3 linked regions of the Homo sapiens genome follow. Changing the gene in region 1 together with any one later gene gives a genetic interaction. Each region holds a gene or a part of one and is shown in the gene's direction. Other genes may lie near its edges.

Evidence for each region.
Region 2: changes in MAN1A1 (region 1) and DAZAP1 together harm fitness less than expected from each alone (positive genetic interaction), as found in Homo sapiens cells (one large-scale study listed by BioGRID).
Region 3: changes in MAN1A1 (region 1) and SEC23IP together harm fitness more than expected from each alone (negative genetic interaction), as found in Homo sapiens cells (one large-scale study listed by BioGRID).

The regions. Positions count from the first base shown.
Region 1 is NC_000006.12:119,346,962-119,351,080, reverse strand, and holds the start of MAN1A1 (mannosyl-oligosaccharide 1,2-alpha-mannosidase IA), read left to right. Parts: upstream 1-1,319; 5' UTR 1,320-1,539; intron 1,540-1,793; coding exon of another isoform or gene 1,794-2,015; coding exon 2,016-2,618; intron 2,619-2,624; exon of another isoform or gene 2,625-2,711; coding exon of another isoform or gene 2,712-2,747; intron 2,748-4,119. UniProt on the Homo sapiens protein: Involved in the maturation of Asn-linked oligosaccharides. Progressively trim alpha-1,2-linked mannose residues from Man(9)GlcNAc(2) to produce Man(5)GlcNAc(2).
Region 2 is NC_000019.10:1,410,416-1,414,133, forward strand, and holds part of DAZAP1 (DAZ-associated protein 1), read left to right. Parts: intron 1-3,718. UniProt on the Homo sapiens protein: RNA-binding protein, which may be required during spermatogenesis.
Region 3 is NC_000010.11:119,906,147-119,909,864, forward strand, and holds part of SEC23IP (SEC23-interacting protein), read left to right. Parts: intron 1-2,894; coding exon 2,895-2,984; intron 2,985-3,718. UniProt on the Homo sapiens protein: Plays a role in the organization of endoplasmic reticulum exit sites. Specifically binds to phosphatidylinositol 3-phosphate (PI(3)P), phosphatidylinositol 4-phosphate (PI(4)P) and phosphatidylinositol 5-phosphate (PI(5)P).

The DNA.
Region 1 (4,119 bases):
CAAAATAACCAAGCCATAAAGCCAGCTTTATCAAACAATAATTTCCTATTAACAAGAACTTTGAGTGTATTACTCATTTTACACAAAACAAGTAGACGACAAATAATGATGGTTAAAATTAATAATTAAATGATTAAATGAAAACTAGTAAGGATTTCTGATTACTTTTCTACTTTCTCATACAGCTTAACACCTGGAAACAACTGTACTGGAGCCACCTTCCCGAAAGGTGCCAGCTGTTTCCTTTGTCTTAAGCACAAACAGAACTAATGTCACATTTCCAGAGAAGGGTAAGGATGAAATAAGGCGACTACAAACCAGCTTTCAGAAATGCGAAGTCAGTCAACGTTTTCCTCTCTGATAACCCCTTATTTGTGGAGCAACAGGAGAATTACAACACATTTTGGAAAATAATTTCTATTGGACCAACTCCTCACTTCGCTGGAAGTAGTCGGATCCAAGACTTAATTTCAACACAGTGTTCGACTTATTGCTTGAAGCTACCGCAGCATAAAACTCGTCTTCGAATGGAAAATTTGACCAACTTCTATGAGGTAAATGAATAGTGAAAGTACGGGTGGGCGGGAGAGACATACAAGTTTTTTCGGTTTTTTGTTTTTTGGGGGAAGAAAGGGCGCATACGAAAAAAGTCCTAAGCAAGCACAGAACTGTGTCTCTTAGGATGTAAAAGGATGTTATACCAGAGAGCTCAAAAGCTCCCAGGGTCACGGCTCCCCTAACCGAGGGACTTGGGGTTTCACTGCTACCAGGCACCCGGGGAACCCCGGCCTTGGATAAAAAGAGGGTAACTGGAGTAAAGCCGTGCTTCTGAACGACCCAGCGCCCAGGACCCCCTGCCAGACCCCGCCTTTCCCGGGACCCCCTCGGGAGCGCCCCCGACCGCCCCGCACGGGTCGGAGGAGGAGGCAGAGAGGTCCCGCGCGGACCCAGGCGCCTCCCGGGCCAGTCGAGGATCAACCACCCCGGGGACCCCTGCCGAGGCCAGCGCAGGATAAACTCCCCGACCCCGAACTCTGCCTGCCGCTTCTCGGCGCTGGGCCTCAGCCACGGGTTCGACCGTCCTCCTCACCGCGGCTCCCGCCTACCTCGCGCCTCCCGGCCCCGCGACCTCCCCGCCGCCGGCCGGGCCCCGCCGAGGCTGCGCTTCCCGTAAACTCCCCGCCCCGCGCATCCCCCTCCTCGCCTCGGCCCCGCCCCCGCGGGACCCTGGGCGGCGCGTGATTGGCCCGGCCGCGCCGTCACTCTCCGGCCGCGTCGCCTCCCTCGCTTTCCACCGCCCCAAGACCGGCAGTGAGATTAGTGCTCGCGGGGCCGCGGCGGAGTGTACCGTGCTGCTCTACTCGCTGCCATTCGCCCGCAGGTCGGCGCGCTCGCCCACCTGAGCCGCGCCGGGGCTGCGGGACCGTGGGACAGCGCGCTCAGCCCAGCCTAGGAAAGAGGCAGCAGTCTCAGCGCGGAGATGGGGAGCGGGCGAAGTTGACGAGTCTCCCGCCCACGCTGCGCCCCTCCTGCCCAGAGGTGCGCTGCCCCTCCCCGAGGTGCTCGCGCGCTGCCCTGACCCCTTCCTGCGCGGGACACCCCTCCCCTACCCACGGGACCTGATAACTTCACCCCAAGTCCAGAGAGTGGGCTGCGAGGGCGGTGCCCGGACTGGACAGGACTCTGCTTAAGGGGAGCGGTCCTGGAGGCTCGCCAGGAGTCGGAGGGCGGAGACCCGCTGGAAACTTTATCATCGCCGTAATTACTACGTTTTACTGTTTCTCTCCCCGCAGGGGCTGCAGCCAGCGGTCTGTCGCGCGTGCCTGTGTGCCCGAGGAGCCGCCCCGGGGAGAAGACCCGGCGCGGAGTTGTTCCCCCAGGGAGGATCCGCAGCCCAGCCGAGGGGGTCGGGCGGCCTGGCTACGCAGGACCCAGCCCCGCAGCCGCGGACTCCCAGCGGCGGCGAAGTTTGGCTGCTGAGCGGCGCGGCGCCGGACCACTGGACAGCGGGAGCGATGCCCGTGGGGGGCCTGTTGCCGCTCTTCAGCAGCCCCGCGGGCGGCGTCCTGGGCGGGGGGCTCGGCGGCGGCGGTGGCAGGAAGGGGTCGGGCCCCGCCGCCCTCCGCCTGACGGAGAAGTTCGTGCTGCTGCTGGTATTCAGCGCCTTCATCACGCTCTGCTTCGGGGCGATCTTCTTCCTGCCAGACTCCTCCAAGCTGCTCAGCGGGGTCCTGTTCCACTCCAGCCCCGCCTTGCAGCCGGCCGCCGACCACAAGCCCGGGCCCGGGGCGCGCGCCGAGGACGCGGCCGAGGGGCGAGCCCGGCGCCGCGAGGAGGGGGCACCCGGGGACCCGGAGGCCGCCCTGGAGGACAACTTGGCCAGGATCCGCGAAAACCACGAGCGGGCTCTCAGGGAAGCCAAGGAGACCCTGCAGAAGCTGCCCGAGGAGATCCAAAGAGACATCCTACTGGAGAAGAAGAAGGTGGCCCAGGACCAGCTGCGTGACAAGGCGCCGTTCAGAGGCCTGCCCCCGGTGGACTTCGTGCCCCCAATCGGGGTGGAGAGCCGGGAGCCCGCCGACGCCGCCATCCGCGAGAAAAGGGCAAAGATCAAAGAGGTGAGTGGGCCGCGCCAGAAATCCCTCCCGACCGGCCGTGTTTTTCAGGGAGAAACGGCAAGCCTTTGAAACTCTGAAGACTGCAACAATGCAATGTATGGGGAGATGGAGGTTTGCCCCTTCCACCAGGTGCTGTGTCAAAAGCTCTTTCTTTTCCTGTTTCCAATATAGTAGTAGATGTGTCCAGTAAGATCTAAGGTCAAATCTCGTTGCTTTTAATTTGCATGCTCTTGCTCTGGTGACCACAAGCCACACGAGGTGGGTATAAATACATGGGCAGGTAATACGCAAACCTCATTCTCTGGCCGCTACACGGTTAATCGCCCCACCAGTAACAGCGACGGCACTGATCAGCCCCCTGGTAAGGATTGGGGACGTGGCTTTAAAGTGAGTCTTCACGCGTGGTAAAGCTAGCCAGCATACCCCGGGTTCAGCTGTGTGGCCCTTGTCTGCCAGGTGGCATTCTGTGTGTACTTTCAGACTATAAAGGTGAAACCTGAGAACTTCCCATCATCGAGGGATACTATTGTTTACTTTTTTAAAAAATGAAAATATAAAAAGCCAGTCGGCTGCCTCTTGTATTTCTAATGCACAGCCAGAAATAGGGTATTCCATGTGATGCAACAGGTTTGCCTCCACAGCAGCACAATGGTGACAAAGTTAATCCAGGATAAACATGGACTTTGATACATCTTTCCTAATTTCCTTCTCGTAATTTTCAGTTAGAACTTGAAACATGTGATTAGGTCAGGACCAGCTTAAAGCTGAAGGGGGCCGTAAAAAGTCCTTTCAGGCTGTCATTTTCAAGATGAAGATCGAAGGGCCCAGAGCTCTAGAACCCGTTAGTGATGAGTCAGGACTTGAAGCCCGAGGTCCGAACTTCCCCCAGTCACCTGTCACCACGCGGTCTGTGGACATGCCTCCTCTCTGAGCTACTTCCCTGTGTGAAACGGTGCCAGCCTGCGTTTTACATAGAAAAGCTGTAGGAACCACATTAAAAGCATGTCATTCCAAATCTTGGTTCAATTTTCTAAAATATGAATGGAAGTAATATTTTTGCCATTTAAAAAATAATACGATCTGTGAAAATAAATATTGTATTTTCATATTGGGTAGGTAATCAGGAGAGGAAGTCCCTGATCCCATTTTCAGAGAGTAAACAGATTTTTGAGGTGGTTGAGAGGTGTTTAGCTTAAGTGGCTGCAGAATGAAGGCAGCAGGATTGTCATGGGATTTGTGACTTTGTATTATAAGATCAGCTGAATTTGGTTAAGCTGTAATTGAGCAAGTTAAAGTGGACTTGGATCCCTTTCGGTTTAGGAAGAATGTCTTCATCCTTCCTATGCAGATAGCTTCCTTCCACAGTCCATCAGCATATCTGCTTTTCTGAGACCCCTCCTCAGGGACAGAACCCTCCCATACTTGGGGGAATGGATTCTACTTTCCAGAACAACTGTCTAGCAGTTTCCTTTCTCCATGAAATCCTGCCTGTGCTACCAAA
Region 2 (3,718 bases), on another chromosome or scaffold:
GTGGGGGACAGGCACTGACCTGTCAGGAGGGTTAGAGGGTTGGCACCAGCAGGTGGCCTGGAGCGCTCAGAGCACGCGCGATCAGGAAGGCCCGAGTCTCCAGTGTGCCCTCCCTGGCCTTGTGAAGTCATCTTAAAGTCTGGCTTGAGCGCCTCTGACTTGGATTCTGGGAAGCTGACACAGCGCGGCCGGGGTCGCCACATCCTGTTGAGTAGCCGCTGGGTGCTAGGCGCCTGGGTGGTAGACCAGGTGTCAGGGATAGGGCCCATGCCTGGCCTACTGGGGAGAGGACAGAGGCTCAGAGGGGTCACCTCGAGCGCCCAGGCCATTGTGTTCTGCTGGCTTCCAAGGCAGCACACGGTCATGGAACTGGAGAGAGAGGTTTATGGAAGATTTTATCTGGTACACTGGGGAATGGTAAGACAGGGACACCTGGAAATATTGTAGGAAAGTCACAGAGGGAGGAAGGACTCAGCGGAGAGAGGAGAAAGCCGCCTCTGGGCAGCTTCGAGGATACCCAGGACTGTGGCCGGGGGCCATGCAGCTCAGAGCCAGGCCCATGGCAGGTCTCTGGGTTTATTGGGTGGCTGTGGAAGGAGACATCCTGAGTGGGGCTCCTGGCTGGGCCCCTAGAGGCCGTGACTACTTGTACCTGTGCAGAGTGAGCACAAGGCACCTGGCAAGATTGTTGGTCAGGCCAGAGAGGGCCGTGATCTGGGGGAGGCTGTTGCAGTGCGGGGAGTGATAGGGAACCTCATGGGGCCGTGCCGGCCTTTCTGGGGCTCTCTTGGTGCATTTGGAGTTATTCCGAGGCAGGTCTCCTGGGCTCTGTCAGCACTCTGGCCTGGATCACTCTGGGGCACCGTGGGCACTGCAGGGTGCTGGGCAGCACCTTTGGCCTCCATTCACTCCGGGTCAGGAGTACCCCCAGTCGTGACAACCACAAATGTTCCCAGACATCACCCAGTGTCCTGCTGGGGGGAGAGCCACTGTCTGGGAGCATCTGTGCTTTTGGCCTGGTTGCCCCTGCGCTGGGGGCCGCTGCTCCTTGTGGTTTATGGCTTGTCCTGTGTCGGCTCCTTTGATTCCTGTGAATGGGCCTTGAGGGTGGATGTGCTCCTGACTGGCTCGCCTTGGCTCCAATGGTCTGGAGCAGGCCGGTGTCTAGAAAGGCAGCAGCATGGACCCTGGCGCTTGCCCTTCACACAGCAGCTCCCCAGTGGCCCAGAGCTAGCAGCAGCGCGCAGCGTGCCCAGCTGTGCTTGTAGCCTTGGCTCTAACCCTTGGCTTTGCCAGAGAGACTGAGGCACAGAGGAGTTGAGGGATGGGCCCGGGGTCACCCCAGGGGGTGGAAGATCCGGAGCTGGGAGTCCACACTCCTCCACTGCCCGCCCCGCACAGAGGGCGCTCCTGGTCAGGCGGCTATGTTCATGGTGCGACCCGTCAATCTGAGGTTGTGCTGTCTTCTGTGAACTGAGGCCTTTTCCCATCCAGGCCTGGTCCCCGTGACACCATGTCATGATGTCAGAATCCCTGAGAGCTGTGACAGGGCTTTTGGCAGAGGCCAGTCATTCGACAGATGCTTATAGGCTGAGCTTCCAGCTTGGCTCCAGGCGTTGCCAAGGAGAACACTGGTCCGCCTGGGAGGGCGGGGCTGGCAGGGAGAGGATGAGGGTGACCACAGTTAGCACCCAGGATGTGGGCATTCAGGGGCTCCTTCAGCACACAGCAGCGCGTTCCAGTTCACGGACCGCTCCTGTGTTCTGTGGACCCCACACCCTGCAGGCGTGGGCTGGAGGGGGGGCATCTGACCCTGCTGGGGAGAGGGAGTCCAGGCTATGGAGGGGCGGGCTGGGCTCACTGGCCTGAGGCAGTGGGTGAAGTGGTCCTGGTTTCCCACCTGGTCTTAGGGGCAGGAAAGTCCCTAGAGGCTCTTCCTGATGCTCTGGAAGAAGAGAAGGGTTCCCCACACATCAGCCGCCACTGGGCCTGGACTTCTGCCTCTTGAGATTGTGCACGGAGCTGAGTGTGACTGGCGGAGCCCAGAGCCAGGTGGGGTCTGTGGGGAGGCAGGCTCCTCCTGGCTTGGTCCCCCGGCCCAGCAGGAAGGGAAAGGTCGCCTGCCAACTGCCCCCATTGAGGCTGCTGGCCCCGAATGGCCGGGCTGGCCGCCGGTTTTTGAAGCCCACTCTGGTGCTGCCAGGAGGTCAGGGCTCTTTGTGGTCAGCCTAGGCCAGAGGAAGCCTCTGCAGATGGACTTTACGCATAAATACCGCACAGGCACCCGAATGGCACGCAGCAAGCGAGGTTGCCATCCAAAACGGCTTTTGCTTTAACAGGCAGAAGAGGGTGGCTGCGCCGGCCACCGTGGATTGAGCACCTGCCAGGTGTCGAGCTGCAGGCCCTGGGTGCCAGGCTTGCAGATCCTGGGAGATGTTCATCATGACCTTTGATGGGCAGACTGCACGCTGGACTCCAGGTTGCAAGGGAAGAAGTGGAGCTCGTCCCACGCCTCCCCCACTAATGAGAACACCCCTTTTGGGTTTGTGGGGTGTGAGGTCTGTAGGAGCCACGACTTCCAGTGTCGGAGATGCCGTCAGCTGGGTGATGACTCTCCCACCCAGCGGGCCCCTCAGAGGCAGGGTGCAGGAGCCACATTGCTCACCGACCCCTTCATCTGCGTAGGCCAGTGTTGCCTTGCCCCGTTAACGTCCTCAGTCCACACGCCGCCAGCCAAGGTGCAGGCTGAGCAAGCCTGGAGCTGAGGACAAGCGGACCGCCAGCCCCGTAGCAAGCCCACGAGAGCCAGCAGCTCCTCCTTTTGGCCTCTGCCCGCGCCCGGCTTCCTGGACTCCGACGTTTACTTGTGTGAGAGTTGGTTCTGCTGCCTGGGCAGTTGATGGACAGTGTCTGGGAGGTGCCTGCCCAGGGCTCCGCATGTTTCTGATGTGCCGGCTTCTCACTCACGACCTGGTGAGGTTGGCAGCCAGGAGCTTTCTTATTTTATTGATTAAAACATCCTGAGATTCAGAAGTAGGGACTTTGTGCCAGGGCCCTGGAGGCAGTCCCTGCCACTGAAGAGATGACCCTGCTTTCCGGGACTTCCCGGAGGCTTCTGTCTGTAGACCAGGGAGAAGGTGTTCGCCGGTGGCTCCTGAGTGGTAGTAAAAGACACATGGACACAGGAAGCTTTAGCGTTAGAAGCTGCTCTCAAATATCTCAACAGAAACACACAGTGTGGCCGCGCGCGGTGCCTCACGCCTGTCATCCTAGCACTTTGGGAGGCCGAGGCGGGCGGGTCACCTGCGGTGGGGAGCTCCAGACACAGCTATGTGAAACGAAAGCTATCTGTTGCTGTCTCAGATTCCATAAGGACTGAGACTTGTTTCAAAAGAAACTGAAATTCTGTCTTGTTCTCAGTAATGAAAGTCTTTTATACCATAATTGTATATATAACTTCTGACTTACAGGAAAATTACAAAAATTCCCATATCCTCTTGGCCCTGCCAGACTCACCATTGGCTGACATTTTACCCTTTGGCACGTGGTGCCTCTTGCCCCACCCCCAGTGAACTGTGTGTGTGTGTGTGTGTGTGTGTGTGTGTGTGTGTGTGTGTTTAGATGGACCCTCACTCTGTCGCCCAGGCTGGAGTGCAGTGGCTTGATCTTGGCTCAGTGCAACCTCCGCCTCCCGGGTTCAAGCAGTACACCTCGAGCT
Region 3 (3,718 bases), on another chromosome or scaffold:
TGGCCCATGCCTGTGGTCTTAGCTACTCAGGAGGCAGAGGCAGTAGGATTGCTTGAGCCTGGGATCTTGAGGCTGCAGTGAACTGTGATCGTGTCACAGCACTTTAGCCTGGGCAACAGAGCAAGACCTTGTCTCAGAAAAAAAAAAAAAAAAAAGAAACGGAGCTAAACATTATGTTCATGTAGGCACTATCATAAAAGATGTCAATTCTTCCCAAATTATCAGATAAATTTTAGGCAATCCCAATCAAAATTCACATCAGGGTTTTTTTTTTTTTTTGGTAAAATTTGCAAGCTGCTTCTAAATTTTTTGTGGAAGATCAAAATGTCAAGGATAACCAAGACCATTTCGACAATGAAATGTGAAATCTTTACCAGATAATACTTACTATAAAGCTGTGGATTGAAAGGGAATATGAAGAAGTGAAAATAATTTATTTATTTATTTTTTAAACAGGATCTCACTGTCCCCCAGGGTGGAGTGCAGTGGCGTGATTTCAGCTCACTGTAACCTCAGCCTCCTGGGTTCAAGCGATTCTCCTGCCTCAGCCTTCCGAGTTGCTGGGATTACAGGCGCCTGTCACCATGCCCAGCTAATTTTTGTATTTTTAGTAGAGACAGGGTTTCACCATGTTGGCCAGGATGGTCTCGAATTCCTGACCTCAGGTGGTCCACCCACCTCGGCCTCCCAGAGTGCTAGGATTACATGCGTGAGCCACCACACGTGGCCTGAAAATAATTTTTAAGGTGGTGAAAGTTTTCTTTCTTTAATCCTTGTTGTTTGTGGCCTTGCTTTTAGAAATTATGAATTATATTTGAAGTTTTTTTTTTTTTTAAATCGAAGAGGAGGGTCAGAAGTACAAAAGACTAGGCTGGGCATGGTGACTCACGCCTGTAATCCCAGCACTTTGGAGGCCGAGGCGGGCTGATTGCTTGAGATTAGGATTTCGAGACCAGTCTGGCCAACGTGGTAAAACCCTGTCTCTACTAAAAATACAAAATTAGCCAGGTATGGTTATGCACGCCTGTAATCCCAGCTACTCAGGAGGCTGAGGCAGGAGTATCTCTTGAACCTGGGAGGCGGAGGTTGCGGTGAGCTGAGATCACGCCATTGCACTCCAACCTGGGTGACAGAGTGAGACTCCATCTCAAAAAAAAAAAGTACGGAAGACTGATGAAGAGGAATTGTTACTGTTACTCAATGATTGTCCAAGAAACAGAAGGAAATACTTCTATTTTCACGTGATTGTCAAATACTCACTGTTACTAGTTTTAAAAAAAAGACTTTGTAACAATTTTTACTTGTCAATTAAAAAAATAAATGAACAAAAAAAAGGACTTGTGGATATGCCAGAGGCTCCCTCTTACTTTGTGTTGAATCTCTCCCCAAGAGGTCCTCACGCTTGTTCTTTATAGAAACTAGAATAGTACGATCGGCCCTCCGTATCCACAGGTTCCGTATCTGCAGATTCAACCAAATACTCTGAAAATATTTAGAAAACCACAACAATAAAAATAACACAGGCTGGGCACCGTAGCTCACGCCTGTAATCCCAGCACTTTGGGAGGCTGAGGTGGACGGATCATCTGAGGTCAGGAGTTCGAGACCAGCGTGGCCAATATGGTGATACCTTGTCTCTACTAAAAATAGAAAAATTAGCCAGATGTAGTGGCTCATTGCCTGTAGTGCCAGTTACTCGGGAGGCTGAGGCAGGAGAATCGCCTGAACCTGGGAGGCGGAGGTTGCGGTGAGCAGAGATTGCACCACTGTACTCCAGACTGGGCAACAGAGCAAGACTCTGTCTCAAGAAAATAAAAAATAAAAATTACAGTTTAACTATTGATATCACATCTACATTTCATGAGGTATTATAAGTAATCTAGAGAAGATTTAAAGTATAAGGGAGGATGTATGTAGGTTTTATGCAAAAATAATGCTATTTTATATAAAGGACTTGAACACCAGGGATTTTGGTATCTTTGAGGGGTCTTGGATCCAGTGCCCTGCAGAAACCAAAGAAAGACTATATCTGGAGGAAGAGTAAGAAGATGGTTGGACAGTGAAGATTTTGGAGTCAGAAAGTCCTGGGTGATATTACTCCAGCCCACATGAAAAAAAAGAAAAAGTCAGTCCTGGGTGGCAATGAACTACAGTTCTCCCATTGCTGCTTCCCAGTTGTGTCATCTTGTGCAACTGTATACAGTACTTAAAATGTCTATTATGGGTTGAATTGTGTCTCCCCATCCCCCAAATATGTTGAATTACTAATCCCCAGTGTCTCAGAATGTGACCTTATTTGGAAATAGGGTCATTGCAGATGTAATTAGTTAAGGTGAGGTTTTACTGGAATAGGATGGGCCCCAAAGCCAATATAACTTGTGATGTGAAGACAGACACACAGAAAGAATCCCATATGATGATGGAGGCAAAGGCTGGAGTTACACTGCAAGCCAAGGAAAGCCAGAGATTGCCAGCCACCACCAGAAGCTAGGAAGAGGGAAGGAGGATTTCTTTATAGCTTTCAGAGGAACGGTGGCCTGCCTTCCTGGCACCTAATTTTCTACTTGGAGCCTCCAGAACTATGGGATGATACATTTTTTTTCTAAGTCACTCTGTTTGTGATACTTTGTTAATGCAGCCCTAGGAAATGAACAGACCATCTAAAACTTGGTTTTCTTCATTATATAATGGGGATCCTGTTACTTAGGCGTGATTGAGAGTAATTACTTCAATGGTATGTGTAAGGTGATAAAAAATATGTTAACCAGTCAGGAAATGAGAACTGCTATTACTGTTATTTTTATCACCATTATAGTGACCGTTTTCCTCCATACTTTCTCTCCATGTGGTATAAATTTGTCATGTTGGAATATATGTTGTTTCCCCCATTATAGGCTGAATATAAAAAAGCTGTAACCACTAATCAGTGGCACCGAAGATTAGAGTTTCCAAGTGGAGAGACAATTGTTATGCACAATCCAAAGGTAATGATGGTGTTCAAAATTTTAAGGTATTAAGTTCATTTTAATATTTTTCTGTGTATGTTTGATAAATTGTTCATTTTTAGTAACTTCTACAGTGGGAATGTTTTTGTAACAAGTGCATTGCTTTTAAAATACTTTATTATTATAGTGGATAATACAGATATTATTTCTATGATTCACACTGATCATAGAAACAAAAACACAAATTTTTCGTAGGGCGAGGTGCACACCTGTGAGAGGCTGAGACAGGTGGAATGCTTGAGCCAGGGGGACAGCAGAACCCTGTCTCTATAAAAAATAGAAAAATTAGCTGGGTGTAGTGGCACATGCCTGTAGTCCCAGCTACTCAAGAGGCTGAGGTGGGAGGATTACTTGAGCCCGAGAGGTTGAGGCTGCAGTGAGTCAGGATTGCTCCCCGCTGCACTCTAGTAGCCTGGGTGACAGAGCAAGACCTCGTCTCAAAATAAAAAGTAAATTTTTCTCAGGCTGGGTGTGGTGGCTCACACCTGTAATCCCAGCGCTTTGGGAAGCCAAAGTGGGAAGATTGCTTTAGGCTAGGAGTTTGAGACCAGCCTGGGAAACAAAGAGACTCTGTCTCTACAAAAATTAAAAAAATTAGCTGAGCATAGTGGTGTGCACCTGTCTAGCTACTCGGGAGGCTGAGATAGAGGATCACTTGAGCCCAAGAGTTTGAGATTGTAGTGAGCTGTGATCACGCTCACTCCAGCCTGGGT